Regions from separate parts of the Homo sapiens genome. Here region 1 is linked to region 2. The links come from fine-mapping of genetic effects on gene expression. Tissue or cell type: fetal neocortex. Region 2 holds a variant in brackets; the other region holds the start of a gene. All regions are shown on one strand. Distances are from middle to middle.

Region 1 (8,103 bases), 21 kb after region 2:
GACCAGAACATTAAAAAGTCCTGTCTCTACCCTTGGAGAATACCAACACCTAACTTATCCCTCAGATGAGTCCCCGAATCCGGCTTGCCTCTGGCTCAGAGCAGAGCAGGCTGTGTGCTGATGACACACCATGCCATCAGTCAAGTTACTTGCAACAGAGCCAAGCTGTCAGCCCAGGGTCCCCAGCACATTCTTAGAAAAAGTTAAATATGTGAGCTCTCCATAGGCTGTCTTGAGGAGCTGGTGTTTGTGAGCTCCAGAAAGCCCCACATACTGCAAGGTAGATAAGGAACAGTCCGTTTGAGCCTATCGGCAGGAACGCTGCCTGCAGTGGAGAATGAATTCTGACGTCAGAGCCCTGTCTGAATTCTGGGGTTTGCCACTGGGCTCCAGGAATCAGCTGCAGGGAATCCCCACAAATATCCACTGTGTAGGAGGAAACTTGCTGTCTGGTTTATGGGACAGAATTCTAACTACATTTAAAAAACTAACCCAGTTTTGCAAAGCTGGTCCTCTGGGCAGTATATAACAATGACAGCATTAATAGCCAATAGAACAGTGGCTCCCAAGGGAAGGAAAAAAGAAAGAAAAGAGACGGAGACAGAGATTAATGGCCAAATTCCACCTGACTTCAGACCATGCAGGCAGAACCATCTGAGGGCAACCAGCCAGACCTGAGCACGTGAAACATACCCTTTGGTCCGCCGAGGCAGGGCTGGAAACATCTTCATTTGTGCACAATAGTTGCCTCGAGTTTTCTATACTTTCCTAAAATCAGATATCAAGTAATCAAGTAATGATCTCAACATTGTTCAGGTTTATCCCCAGAGGTAGGAATCACCAGCTCACTCACCAGCATGCACTGGACTTCGACTGCATGCCTGATTTCAAGCCACATGGTGCCCTAGGCTCTCTATCCATTAGGATAGCCCTGAGTGCCATTCAGATTTATGCCTTCCTCTTCCTAGATGCTCCAGCAGCTGCCCCCAATGGTGCTGTCACCTCCCCCACTCTCTGATGTCAACTGTCGCACTGAATGGTTACCACCATCCCCTGGCTATACATGTCAGAAACCTAGAAGTCCTTCTCCCTCACCCACTTCCATGTCTTATCAGTTCAGTCTTATTTCCTCTCTTTTTCTTTCTTTCTTTTCTTATTGTTTTTTAAGAGACAGGGTCTCACTCTGTTGCCCAGGCTGGAGTGCAGTGGTGTGATCATAGCTCACTGCAGCCTTAAACTTCTGGGCTTAAGTGATCCTCTTGCCTCAGCCTCCCAAATAGTTGCGACTACAGGCACAACCCACTACACCTGGCTAACTTTCTATTTTTATTTGTACAGATAGGGTCTCGCTACATTGCCCAGGCTGGTCTCAAATTCTTATTCTCGAGAGATCCTCCCATCTCAGATTCTCAAAGTGCTGGGATTATAGACATGAGCCACCACAGCCAGCCTCCATTTCTTAATTTGAGAAAAAATAAATACAAAAATTACAAAGAATGGCTACACACTATAATCCCCTCACCCAGAATTAACAACTGTAAACATCTGGTTATATTTGCTTCTAATTTTATTACATTTTCTTTCTTCTTTTTTTTTTTTTAAAGATGGAGTTTCACTCTTGTCACCCAGGATGTGACCAGTTTAGCCAGTCTGTCCTCCATCACGTGGAAGATTTGTTTGATTCTCTCTGAATCCCCAGCACCTGGCCTGGGCCTGATATTACCTGTTAAACAGATGTACGCTTTTCTTTTCTTTTTTTGCTGGGGGAAGGGGATGGAGTTTCGCTCGTCACGCAGGCTGGAGTGCAGTGGCAAGATCTCGGCTCACTGCAACCTCCACCTCCTGGGTTCAGAAAGTGATTCGCCCACCTCAAGCCTTCCGAATAGCTGGGATTACAGGTGTCTGCCACCACACCCAGCTAATGTTTGTATTTTTAGTAGAGACGTCGGTTTCACCATGTTGGTCAGGCTGGTCTCGAATTCCTGACCTCAGGTGATCCACCCACCTCGGCCTCCCAAAGTGCTGGGATTAAAGGCATGAGCCACGGCACACGGTCAGATGTACGCTTTTCCTTACCCCTTCCAATCTGACAAGCTCATTTAGAAGGAATAAACACAATAATATATGTAGATTCTGTTATTTCAACTGCTTTTAAAAGGGACACGTGGGCAGGGCCTGAGGTCGGGAGTTCAAGACCAGCCTGACCAACATGGAGAAACCCCCGTCTCTACTAAAAATACAAAATTAGCCGGGCATGGTGGCGCATGCCTGCAATCCCAGCTACTCGGAAGGCTGAGGCAGGAGAATCGCTTGAACCTGGGAGGTAGAGGTTCTTGTGAGCCGAGATGGTGCCACTGCACTCCATCCTGGGCAAGAAGAACGAAACTCCGTCTCAAAAAAAAAAAAAAAAAAAAAAAAGGGACACACAGACTTCAAGTTTCAAAATAAAATGTGAAATTCATTAGCTCTGAAAACAATACTTACAACTGAAATGAACACATTTGTAGGATCTAATAATTCTGTCCATTGAAGAAATCGTCGAATAAAGGACTTAGGAGGGAGAAAAGCAACAGAGAGGTTAATGGCAGCAGAAAAATAAAGATATAAATACTAACAGTTGGCTTTTTTTTTTTTTTTCTGAGAACCTGCCAGGGTCTGTGATCTGCCTTTTACTGGCATCATCTCCTGGGATCCTCCCAACCTCTCCAGGTTCTCCAGGTGAGGAAGCTGAGGCTTAGAGGGACTCCTGAATGTACTCAAGGCAACACAGCCAGGAAATGATTCAGAAGTCTGTGCCCTTAACCTCTCAGTATCAAATTGCCCTTGAGGGTTAAAATCCCAGACTTTGGGGGTTCAAATGGTCTTACGTTCATATCTCACATACGACCTCGAAGCAATGGCCTAGAATATCTCAAGAGTCTGTGGCCTCACTCTCTGCTTGCTATAAGGCTTCACTCCAGTGACAAAGGATGGACGCCCCATTAAGGGCTCAATGGTGCAGCTGGGGTCACACTGGGGAAAAAGAGGTTTGCTCCAGCAAACTCTAAACTTTGTAGTGGTTCTGGCTTTAAGCCTTGGCTCTGCTGGAGCAACCTGAGCTCACCGCCCCTTCTCAATTTCCCCACCTAAAAAAAAAACAGGGCTGGACCCCACTTTAGGAGAGGCCTCAAAGAGAACCCCCTAAAGCCCTGCTCTCCAATTCGCCACATGCGGCTGAACCCAGATGTGCTGTGAAGGTAACAGACGCCGGATTTGGAACACTCTGTACCAAAAAAGCGAGTAAAATATCTCAGCAATGTTTTTTACTGATTACATGTTGAAATGTTAATATTTTGCACCTGCTAGGCTAAATGTACTGTATTGTTAAAAATTTCAGCTGTTTTTATCTTGTTTAATGTGGCTACTAGAAAATGTTTAATTACCTGTAAGGCTCACATCATATTTCTATTGGACGGTGCTGCCCTAGACGCTGCAGGGAGATAAGTCCTGCTTATGTCCTGCCCAAGGGTGGCTTCCCAAAGCCTCGGGGGTCTCACCGAAAGTGGCTGAGCTTACCAAGGTGCGAGAGCCTGTTTCTCCCCAATCTGCTGCTCAGCCACAGCTCAGGCAGTAGGGAGCAGCCACCTGCGCGGACTGGGCCCCTCCGAGAGGGCAATCTGGAGGGTGACGTTGTGGTCGTGGGCATCTGGCAGCTTCGATTTCCCCTGCGTCCCCTGCCGCGCCCTAAGGGGTGAAGGCCGGTGGTGCGCGTTCCCGGCACAACTCCGAGAGGAGGAAACGGAGACAGGGGGCGCCCACGTGGCCTGGCCAAGGTCACCCGGGTCAGCCCGACTCCACGCGGCCCGGCCCGCCCCCTCCCTGCCCCTAGTCGCGCCGGGCCCGGGCCGTACTTGGCGCTCGGTGATCCAGAAGCGCACGTTGGGCTCAATGAAGGCGGGGACGGCGTCTCTGCGTCCTAGGAGCCGCCCAGGTTGCGTTTCCTCCTCCTGTTCCAGGGACATTTTGCGCTGGTTAGAGTGGCCGCCGCCGCCAGGCCGCGCGTGGAGGAGGAGCCGGGCGGCGAGCCCCGCCCCGGGCCGCGCGCACCCGCAGTTCCCGCCCCAGGCCCGCGCGCCCGACGTCCCGTGTCACAGCGCCTCGGGGCCCTTGCGCGCCCACTGTTCCGGCGAGCGCAGCTCTCCCACGGGCCACGTCCTCCCAACCCTGCTTGCCCTGCTCCGCACCTTTGGGGAGCCGGGCCGTCTCCAGGCCCCAAGGGGTCACTATCGGAACCCGTCATCACAGTACCTAATGCGAAGACCCGGAAAGGTTGTGAGTGAGGCCGTCCGCAACCTCACCCTGCGCTTCTGCCGCGCCCTACCCCTGGTCATTACCCTCGAAAATCCCTCCGATGGCCCACGAATTCCAGTGTGCATGGTGTTGCGCAGTCAGGCCGGCTGCATCATGGTCTCAGCCCAGGGAAAATGTCAAATGCGGTGCCCCTTATTCATGTTACTGAGAATTTCAAGAGAGTAACACCAGAGCATCAAACCAAGTATAGGGCCCTGGGCACAGTGCACTATCCCTCAGCCCAACAGGTTGTTTTTTTTTTTCTTCCAGTGTTGGGGCAAATCCAGTTCCTTTTGTTGACTACCAAATAGGTACCATTTGTAAAGAAAAACCTGCCTTCCCTTCCTCCTCCCACCTGCCCTTCCCCAGCACAGGGCCAGGCGGGGGCTGTGTGCACTTAAATTCACGGAAGCCACAAGTGTGCCTAGGTCGTTCAGGGGGCCTCCGGAGTCCAGGACTGGGGGACCCAGCACATCATCTAGTTGTGTGACCCTCGCCAAGTCAGTATCTCGAAGTCTATTTTCCCATCCGCAAAATGAGGATAACAATTGTACCTATCTCAGGGTTTTGTTTCTGATCAAAGGAGATAAAACATCCCTAACACAGCACTGAGCCCTCAGAAGTGCTCAGTATTGGCCATTAACCTCCAGCGGGCCAATTCCTTCCCTTGCCCTGCGCCTCCAGGAACAGGAAATTGGCTCATGGCGTCCTTCAGGCCTGTATGACTCTGCTTCTGTATTTGCTCAGTTTGCCTAGCTCACTTTTCTTAACCTCCAGGGGTTTATCTCCTCTTCCAGGAAGCCTTCCCTGACCCTCCGAGTTGAGTAAGGTGCCCCCTCCACTTCTACCCTTATGCCGCAGAAATCCATCTAAGCACCAGTGCAGTATGTAGCGTGCTGTTCTATTCTGTTGTCTCTACCCTCCAGGATGTCACAAAGCCAGCCCGCTGGCCTGCTTCCCCACTTTGGACTGCTATGTCGTCTTAACAAAGGAGCCAGAGTGATTCTCTTAGAACAAGTTGATGTCACTCTTCTTTTCAAATCCTTCCTGACATTCCCCACCCCAGAACAGAACCTAAAGTCCTTGGCCTGGCCAAAAGGCACTCTGGGACCCCCACCACAGCCATAGTCACCGGCCTCCTAGTAAATCTGCATCCGCTCTGAGCCCACTCTTGCCTCACGGCCTTTGTGTTTTCCCTGCCCTCTGCCTAGAAGTCTCTTATCCCCGTAATACTCTCACTTTCTACGCGTTTTCTCTCCCTCGATGCTCATCAAAACCCTGAGATAAGTACAATTATTGTCCTCATTTTACAATGAGAAAATTGATCCAGAGAGGCTCTCCCTTAAGGCCTTCCTTGACAACCCCATCTAGAACACCTACAACTCCGCTTCAGCAGTTTCACTCCACATTATTTTCCTTCCAAACACTCTACTTTTACTACATGTATGAGGTGTTTCCCCTCTAGAATGTAAGAGCTTAAAAGCAGGGGTTTGTCCGTTGTTCGCTCTTGTGCCTGGAAAACAGCACCTGGTGCGGGGTAGGCACTCAAGGATTTACTGAAACAACGAGAAAATGTTTCCCTATCTGTCTTGCCCCTAAACCGAGTTCCTTGAGTGCGGAACCAGCATCTTATTCTCTTTGTGGCCCCTGAGGTAAATGCTCAATAAATGTTTGTTGATAATCTGAGAAGGAAAGGAGAGCCCAAAATAAGCTGATCCAACAGTTACTGGTGGTAAAATGCAAATGTTTTAAAATATGTTTATTTTGTATGTTTTACAATGAATACTTCAGCAAAGAAAATAATTATAATTTCAAAATGCAATCCCTGGATTTGATAAATATCCTTTATAATCGATTACACTAATCAATATCTAGAAATATACATAGACAAAGTTAGCTAATGAATAAAATAAGTAAAATGACTACATAAACTCAATTTCAGGGATGAGGGATCATGCATGATCAGTTAAGTCACTCTGCCACTTTTTAAAATAATACGATTCACATTTGCTTCAATCACATAAACATTCATTGCAGGAGTTACACGGCTAATCATTGAAAATTATGATCTTTGTTAGCTTAAAAGAAAATTCAGTTTAATACAAAGACATTCAAGATGAAAATTTCAGGACCGTTGATCAGAAGCTTTCAATGTGTGTTGCTCTACTTTATTATAGGCAAGATTCAAGTAAGGCTAAGAAAGAAGAGTGTTTCCATTGAGACATGATCTAAGAATAGCCTTCTATAGAGGCAAATTATGTTCTGTAGAAACTAGCTAGCCAGCCACCAAGATGTTACCAATAAAGGATTCCTTGTACTAGCAACTAACCATGTTTAAAAGGTCTTAGCCAGAATTACAAAAACAAAACATTTAGAGTAATACTTATGAATACAAGCATAATTGGTTCCTTGCCTTCTACAAATAACCATCTTGAAAATGATAAAAGCAGGTTTCAACTGTGGTTCTTCTCTCAGTTGAGAAGGTGCAGATACACATGGGTGATCTACTGATTTACCTTCTGAAAGTACTCTTTGGAAGCAGCTGGACTTGGCTTGATCTGAAAATACAAAAGCTTAATTAGGTAACTGTGACTTTACCATAATAATAGTCCCAAAAGTGAGTGGCAATCTCCCAATTTTTAACCTAAAGTTCTTTAAACTTTTAAAGATTTCCTTTAAAACATAAAGATGAAAGTTTCATTAAGGCCTGCCTGTCTCTAGGCCGGGCACGGTGGCTCACGCCGGTAATCCCAGCACTTTGGGAGGCCAAGGCGGGTGGATCACGAGGTCAGGAGATCCAGACCATCCTGGCTAACACGGTGAAACCCCGTCTCTACTAAAATTCAAAAAATTAGCCGTGGTGGTGGGCGCCCTGTAGTCCCAGCTACTCAGGAGGCTGAGGCAGGACAATGGCGTGAACCCAGGAGGCGGAGCTTGCAGTGAGCTGAGAGAGCGCCACTGCACTCCAGCCTGGGCGAGAGCAAGACTCCGTCTCAAAAAAAAAAAAAAAGGCCTGCCTGTCTCTGATAATTGGTTCCTGGCTCCCCACCCCACCCCCTCTACCCCACAGCAGCTTCACCCATTTGCATATCATCTGCACGCTTGCTTCAAGAGTGGGCTCCCTTTTGTGGATATTTCAGGTCAATAGCTCTCGAGGCTGAGAGAACATGGACCTCACTGCTTTTGGGGAAAAAAACCTACCGTAGGAGAATCCGGTGTCCAGTTCGCTGGGCAGACTTCTCCATGTGTTTCTACATACTGGAACGCCTTCACCAAGCGGAGGGTTTCTTCCACGCTTCGGCCCACTGGGAGATCGTTGACGCTCAAATGCTTGATGACTCCATTGGGGTCAATTATGAAGAGACCTCTGCATGATCATTTATCCTCATCAGTGCCTCAACAGTACCAGAACTAGAACAGTCTAACTTCTTCCCTTTTAGGTCTTTAATTCTCCTTTTAATAAAATATTTATTAAGCGTAATCATATGCTTAAAGGTGGGGTTTTCACTGTTGTGCAAAAAACTTATCATCTCTTACTGATGACAGATGCTTTAACAAAGGCAGTACTGGACCAGGTCACCATAAAACATGCAGTATGGTCACACTTACAAGTTCACATAGTGCCCTGAATGTTACACAGTATCGGAAAGTCACTGAACTAGAGAGAGCAAAGACTATTAGTGACTTGGCAAGCATTCTTTGAGCTGCTGTATCACATCTTGGCAAGAAACTTATAGGCAAATGGGAAGAGACAGAGGTGTATTTTATCTAGGT
Region 2 (8,103 bases):
CAGGCCGATCCCCACTCCAACCGTTCCCTCAGCAACCCCAGGGGTGTCAGACGGGGCACCCTCCCACTGTCTTCTCCAGCCAGCCTTAAAAACCCCAGAGACGCCAGCCTGGGAACGATCTCAGTATGGAATCTGAAGTCGCCTTGTCAGCACAGACACCTCTGGGGTCCCCAGAAGACCTGTGGCAAAGTTCTCTAAACCGAACCTGGAGAGGGGAAGGTTTTCAAGCAGGAACCACATAAATTCACCTAAAACTCACGCCTACACCCCTCTGTGATAAAAGATTTCTGTTTCTTCTGTTGGAGACTGAATTTTCTCTTCAAGACTACAGTACTGTATCTGAAAAATAGTTAAATTCATAATGTTTCTATTAATAGTTTTTCTTGCCTTAGAAGCCAAGTTAAAAAAATCATTTTCTGAAAGCAACCATTTCACAGTCCATCTTTTTCAATAATGTCTAATCTATAGCAGAAAATGTAACCTATTTTTTTTTTTAATCACCCAAGCAGTAAAGAAACTTCTTAAACTTTTTTTTTTTTTTTTTTTTTGAGACAGAGTCTTGCTCTGTTGCGCAGGCTGGAGTGCAGTGGCACCATCTCAGGTCACTGCAACCTCCACCCTCCAAGTTCAAGTCATTCTCATGCCTCAGCCACCCGAGTAGCTGGGATTGGGATTACAGGCGCGCACCACCATCCTTGGCCCATTATTGTTATTTACTTATCTCTACATTTGTTTATAATTGAAAGTTTCCATTAAAAAGTTTTAAGATGGCTGGGCACAATGGCTCATGCCTGTAATCCCAACACTTAGGGAGGCTGAGGCAGGTAGATCACTTGAGGCCAGGAGTTCAAGACTAGCCCGGCTAACATGGTACAAAAAATACAAAAATTAGCTGGGTGTGGTGGCACACACCTGTAATCCCAGCTACTCCAGTGGCTGAGGCACGAGAATCACTTGAACCTGGGAGGTGGAGGTTACAGTGAGCCGAGATCAGGAGGATTGCTTGAGGTGGGGAGTTTGCAATCAGCCTGGGCAATATAGTGGGACCCTATCTCTACAAAAAATAAAAAATTAGCCAGGTGTGGTAGTACGTTCCTGTAGTCCCAGCTACTTGGGGGGCTGAGGTCAGAGGATCACTTGAGCCTGGGAGTCAAGGCTGCAGTAAGCCATGATCATACCACTGCCCTCCAGCCTGGGCAACAGAGTGAGAAACCCTGTCTCAAACACACAAACAAACAAAAAACAAATGTAGAAGGAATGTAATGAACTCACATGTGCTCACTCAGGAATCACTATTAACAATTTGCAGATCTCATTTCATCAAGCACCTCCCACACCCAGCAGTAGGATTTTTTTCCTTGAGTATTTTAAGGCAATTCTCATGTCATGTCACCTACAAGTTCCAAATGATAAAGACCTTATCATTATTGATATAGTACTTGATATAGTAATGACAGTAGTTACAAAACTACTATGTCATTGTCACACCTAACAAAATTAGTAATAACTCCTTATCTCATCTAAGCACCTCCATGCCCTCCTTGAGCCAACAGGATATTTTGTGTCTTTTTTTTTTTTTTTTTTAAATGAGATGGAGTCTCACTCTGTCACCCAGGCTGGAGTGCAGTGGCGCGACCTCGGCTCACTGCAAGCTCCGCCTCTGGGGTTCACGCCATTCTCCTGCCTCAACCTCCCGAGTAGCTGGGACTACAGGCACCCGCCACCACGTCCAGCTAATGTTTTGAATTTTTTTTTTTTTTTTTTTTTTTGATATGGAGTCTTGCTCTGTCGCCCAGACTGGAGTGCAGTGGCGCGATCTCGGCTCACCGCAAGCTCTGCCTCCAGGGTTCACACCATTCTCCTGCCTCAGCCTCTCGAGTAGCTGGGATTACAGGCGCCTGCCACCATGCCTGGCTAATTTTTTTGTATTTTTAGTAGAGACGGGGTTTCACTGTGTTAGCCAGGATGGTCTCAATCTCCTGACCTCGTGATCCGCCCGCCTCGGCCTCCCAAAGTGCTGGGATTACAGGCATGAGCCACCACGCCCGGCCCCAACAGGATATTTCCAAAGTCCAGCAAGCAAGTCTTGGCATCTGAGGTCACGCGTGAGACTGACTCCCTTTCCTGCCTCCACTCTGGCCTCTGGGAGTTCTGCCCCTTCCAACCTTGCATGACTTACCTGCTGCCCTGCTCCTTGGCCTGGCTGTGCAGGCCCTGCCACCTGGCCCCCAGCATCCTGCCTGTTCCTTGCAGCCTCACGTGCCCATTCAGCCCTTCCCATCCTCCACTGGGGATGAACTCTTCCCTCTCCCTCCTGGGCTCAAGTGATCCTCTCACCACAGCCTTCTGAGTAGCTGGGACTGCAGGTGTGTGCCGCTTCACCCTACTAATTTTTTTTTTTTCGAGACAGGGTCTCACTCTGTGACCCCATTGTAGCCTTGACCTCCCATGCTCAGGTGATCTTCCTACCTCAGCTGCCTGAGTAGCTAGGACTACAGGCACATACCACCATGCCTGGCTAATTATTATTTTTTCTTTTTAAACAATTTTTTTCAGAAGAGAGATGAGGTTCAGACTGGTCTCGAACCCTGAGCTCAAGTGATCCTCCCACCTCGGCCTCCCAAAGTGCTGGGATTACAGGCATGACCCACTGTGCCCAGCCAAATTTTTATTTTTAGCAGAGACGAGGTCTTGCTATGTTGTCCTGGCTGGTCTTGAACGCCGGGGCTCAAGTGATCCTCCCACTTGGGCTTCCCAGAGTGCTGGGATTACAGGCATGAGCCACAGCACCCGACCTAATTTTTAGAACATTTTATGTAGAGACGAGGTCTCACTACATTCCCCAGGCTGGTCTGGAACTCCTGGCCTCAAGCAATCTTCCCACGTTGGTCTCCCAAAGTGTTGGAATTACAGACATGAGCCACCGTGCCTGGCCTGAAATTTTATTCTGAGATGCTGCCTCGCTCCCCAACCCCTCGCCCATAGCATAGTAATAGGCATAACTATCTAAAATAATCTGAAACTTCTACGTTGTGCTGGCAAAGTTGCTTGAATGAATGATCCTACAACCTAAACCTATAAAACGTGGGTTCTGAACAAGATCATTCCATAAATATAAATGCTTTTGAGGACATATATATTTATAGTGACAGAAATGAACATTTGAAATGTTTAGCCAAGAAACTGCTAGTATCAGCCGGGCGTGGTGGCTCACGCCTGTAATACCAGCACTTTGGGAGGCCGAGGCGGGCGGATCACGAGGTCAGGAGATCGAGACCATCCTGGCTAACATGGTGAAACCCCATTTCTACTAAAAAATACAAAAAATTAGCTGGGTGTGGTGGCGGGCGCCTGTAGTCCCAGCTACTCAGGAGGCTGAGGCAGGAGAATGGCATGAACCCGAGAGGTGGAGCTTGCAGTGAGCCGAGATTGCGCCACTGCACTCCAGCCTGGGTGACAGAACGAGACTCCGTCTCAAAAAAAAAAAATTGCTAATATCTGCTAGCATCAGTAATGTCTTTGACATCTGCTAGCAATTTATGGCAGAGCTTTGGAAATTAAAAAAATTGGCTTTCTGACTTAAAAAAAAAAAAATGTCCTTGCTACCTACTAAGCAACAACCCTTTGCAGAGATGCCATTATCTTCAGCTCTCTTTAACAGATAAGAAAACTAAGCAAGTTGACCAAGGTCATGGAGAAGCTGGAATCTGAGTCCAAGCAGCCTGACTCATCATAAATTATATTATAAATTATCTATAGAACTGGGCTGTCCAATAGCCACTAAGCACACAAGAGTACCTAATTTAAAATTTAACTTAATTTACAATTCAGTTCCCTAGTCACACCAGCCTCTCCTGAAGTGCTCAGTAGCACACGTAGCTCATGGCTACCATAATTGGACAGCACCAATCTATTATAGAACATTTCCATCACTGCAGAAAGTTCCACTGGAGAGGGCGTAGTTATAGAACATTTTGGAGTATTTAAAATTTCTCTAAGTAATTTTAAAAGATTTCTTTTTATGCCCCAGAAAAAAAGGCTTATGAAATATTGTTAAGAAAAACAGAACCCAAAACTGCACCAAGAGATTTGAGGGATAGAATTAAATATAAATATCATTACAATTAACCCTTGAATAATGCAGGTTTGAACAATGCAGGTCCACTTATATACTGTTTCCCCCTCAGTCACCCCTGAGACAGCAAGACCAATCCCTCTTCCTCCTCCGCAGCCTACTCAATATGAAGATGACGAGGATGAAGACTTTGATCCTCACTGAAACTGATGACTCACCTTCACTTAATAAACAGTAAATATATTTTTTCTTATGATTTTTTTTTTTTTTTTTTTTGAGACAGAGTCTCACTCTGTCACCCAGGCTGGAGTACAATGTCATGATCTTGGCTCATTGCAACCTCTACCTCCCCAGGTTCAAGCGATTCTCCTGCCTCAGCCTCCCGAGTAGCTGAGATTACAGCTACCGTGGCTAATTTTTGTATTTTTAGTAGAGCTGGAGTTTTGCCACGTTGGCCAAGCTGCTCTTGAATTCCTGATCTCAAGTTATCTGCCCGCCTCAGCGTCCCAAAGTGCTGAGATTACAGGCATGAGCCACCGCGCCTGGCCTGATTTTCTTAATAACGTTCTATTTTCTCTAGTTTATTGTAGGAATACAGTATACAACACATATAAAATATAAAATATGTGTTACTTGACTTTTTATG[G/T]TATTGGTAAGCCTTCCGGTCAACAGTAAGCTATTAATGGTTAAGTTTTCAGGGAGTCAAAGGTTATACTTGGATTTTTGACTACTAACCCCCAGGTTGTTCAAAAGCCAATTGTATTTTGTTTTATTATTTTATTTTTTTGAAATAGGGTCTCACTCTCAGCCAGGCTGGAGTGCAGTGGTGCAATCATGGCTCACTGCAGCCTCAATCTCCTGGGCCCAGGTGATCCTCCCACCTCAGTCTCCTGCGCAGCTGGGACAACAGGTGTGCATCATCACACCCAGCTAATTTGTGTATTATTTTTTGTAGAGATGGGGTCTCACTATGTTGCCTAGGCAGGTCTTGAACTCCTGGGCTCAAGCAATCTTCCCACCTTGGCCTCCCAAAGTGCTGGGATTACAGGTGTGAGCCACTGCACCTGGTCTTATTTTATATTTTTATAAACTTTGCAGAGTTTTAAGAAGAATAACTTATTTTATTCTTCTAACTGCAAAATAAAAAACTTTGAGAGAAAAGAGGAATGGGGGCACTTACCTGTCCAATCTGTGGAAATATACTAAAAGAAAATGGCACCATCAGTCCCATTGCCAGGACAGTACAAGACAGTTTCAAAATCCACAATGACCCTGGGTTTTTCCTGAAATACTGGGTCCTGTAAGAGACAAGGCATGGCTCACAAGTGATGTTAAACTATCAGGGCTTATTTTCTGAACAGCTGAATCAGGGCGTGTGTGTGTGTGTGTGTGTGTGTGTGTGTGTGCACGTGTGTGTGTACCTGAACACCTGGATCAGGGCCTGTTCTTTTTTCTTTTTGTTGTACCTGAACAGCTAGATCAAGGCCTGTTTTTTTGTTGTTTTTGTTTGTTTGTTTTGTGTTTTTTTCTTTTGAGAGAATCTTCCTCTGTCGCCCAGGCTGGAGTGTAATGGTGCCATCTTGGTTCACTGCAATCTCCGCCTCCTGGGTTCAAGCAATTCTCCTGCCTCAGCCTCCCGAGTAGCTGGGATTATAGGCGCCCGCCACCACGCCTTGCTAATTTTTGTATTTTCAGTAGAGACGGGGTTCACCATGTTGGCCAGGATGGTCTAGAACTCCTGACCTCAGGTGATCTGCCCACCTTGGCCTCCCAAAGTGCTGGGATTACAGGCGTGAGCCACCGCACCATCCCATCCCTCCTTCTTGGAAATGTGCTCCATGTGTGGTCCTAGCAGGCGATTCCCAGCCTCGCCACACTGGTGGGGGGGATGTGCACCCCAGGCATGCGACCTAACTCAGGCCCACAGAATCCTTCCCCAGGAGTCTGCCCTGAGGGGAAGACATTCCTGCCTCCCCTGGGGTTTGCTGTGTTCCACCTCTGATCAGGAGGCTGTGAGGCTATGAGCTGGGAGTTACTAGCAAGTGGGTCCCGCATCAATATGAAGAAGCCAATCTGGCAGGAGAGAAGGACTCGACACCCACGAGAATGACAGGGAGGCGCGCCCAGCAGGGGAGCTTCTGTTCAAGCTGCCATGGACTGCAATCCTTGCCCGTTCCGGCCCTAAAGCCCCAACGTCTCCCCTCGGGTCTGAGCTCCTGCAGGTTAGGTTTCTCATACTGGTGGCCACAGGAACCCTGATGGATGCCCAGGTCCTCCGCCTCGTAGGCCATTTCTGGCTTCTTAAAAGGGATGGATCTGAATTCGGAGTCGCTGAAGCTCATTTAAAACATACTTGGAATGGGGGTTTAGAGAGGAGGGCTTGAGCAATATTCACAGCACATGAGAGCCAGGGGAACCTGCAAATCATCCAAGCCCCTCATTCTAGAGGTGAGGAAATGGCCGTGGAAGGTCCTTCGACACGCCAAGGACACGGGGTAACTGGAGGCAGAGCCTGGGCTGGATTCCCCATTCGGTGGAATCCGTACACCCGGATTTCCACGCCTGCCACAATCAATCCGCCTGTCTTAGCTGTGATGTGTGTTTATGGGAAGGTTACTGAGCCAACTTCTCCCCACCCTCCACCAGGGTCAGTATCTGACAGGTTTTATAAGGATTTGACTTTCAAATCCCTACCTGGGGATATGACCGTGTCTCTTACCTTTTAAAAAAGTAGGTGAAGACTTCAGGAATCAGAGCTGAGGTCCCAAACAGCACTATTCTGGATGCTAGCGTTTCTCTAACAGCCTAGCAAAAATGAAAAGAAAACAGCTTAGGTTGGGCACGGTGGCTCACGCCTGTAATCCCTGCACTTTGGGAGGCCGAGGCGGGTAGATCGCTTGAGGTCAGTAGTTTGAGACCAGCCTGGCCAACATGGTGAAACCCTGTCTCTACCAAAAAATACAAAAATTAGCCCGGTGTGGTGTTATGCACCTGTAGTACCAGCTACTTAGGAGACTGAGAAATGAGAATCACTTGAACCTGAGAGGCGGATTTTGCAGTGAGCCAAGATCACGCCACTGCACTCCAGATTGGGCGACGGAGTGAAACTCTGTCTCAAAAAAGAAACTTAGTACAGGAGCAAGACGATTTCCAGGGATCCCACAACTCCTGCGAGAGACAGGCAACAGTAACCCACCCTTCTCACTTAGAAAAAGAATGCCCGTGGAGAGAGGCGGAGGGGACGCCTTCCACGTAACTTTCCATGTACAGGTGTGTGGCGGTCGGCTGCACTTTGTGCCAGAAATAGCTGGCACCGTCTGCCAAACCACCCCAAATAAACTATCCACTAAGTACAAGCAAAGGTGGCTTCTAGACAGATCTTCACTGAGAACCAAATGGTTCCTCAGTGGAAATGCTGGATTTGCCACAGAGGTTTGCTCCGTATTTCCCATCCAAGCCAAGTCTCTGCCACTGGCCTCCTGTCCTGACCTGGCTCAGCAGTGACTCTCATACCTGCCATTGGGGAAGCCTCCAAATGCCCAGCTCTGAGGGCACGGGCACAGCATGAGACCCACACAAGGCTGCCTGTCCGTACCCACGTTTCACAGCGAATTAAAAGTGTTATACTATAAAATTGTGTTATGTACAGGTTATAACATTTTTGTAATCTTTTCTATAATGTACATTACTCTATACATTAAACATTTAAACATACAATTTACTGTATGGGTGAGTATGTACAAAACCATGTACCCTCAAGGGCACTTTAAGGGACTTGTAAGGGAAATTTTGACTATAAGACAGCTCACGTTAACTTTTTTACTACTTTCATTTATTTATTTATTTTTAGAGACAGGGTCTCACTCTGTCATCCAGGCTGGAGTACAGTAGCGTGATCACGGCTCACTGCAGTGTTGACCTCCCAGGCTCAAGTGATCCTCCTACCTTAGCCTCCCGAGTAGCCAGGATCACAGGTACACCCTACCAGGCCCGGCTAACTTTTCGATTTTTTGTAGAGATGTGATCTC

The links. PIP is the estimated chance that this variant, and not a neighbour inherited with it, causes the effect.
Region 1: SFXN4 starts here. The variant in region 2 is fine-mapped to the expression of SFXN4 in fetal neocortex (Walker 2019, PIP 0.95).

Annotation. Positions count from the first base shown.
Region 1 is chr10:119,161,647-119,169,749 of GRCh38, forward strand. SFXN4 (sideroflexin 4) reads right to left here and starts at 4,068. Exons shown (of 14, transcript NM_213649.2): 1 at 3,891-4,068; 2 at 2,485-2,550; 3 at 694-768. The coding sequence starts at 4,001. PRDX3 (peroxiredoxin 3) reads right to left here. Exons shown (of 7, transcript NM_006793.5): 6 at 7,531-7,696; 7 at 6,074-6,887. The coding sequence ends at 6,834. RefSeq lists silencers at 3,519-3,705, 3,747-4,216.
Region 2 is chr10:119,140,981-119,149,083 of GRCh38, forward strand. It overlaps SFXN4 (sideroflexin 4), which reads right to left. Exons shown (of 14, transcript NM_213649.2): 12 at 6,795-6,880; 13 at 5,256-5,373; 14 at 1-339. The coding sequence ends at 262. Among named protein-coding and RNA genes, the nearest start is that of SFXN4, 21 kb to the right of the region's middle. RefSeq lists an enhancer at 1,467-1,968. The variant G/T (reference allele first, on the strand shown) is at 4,722.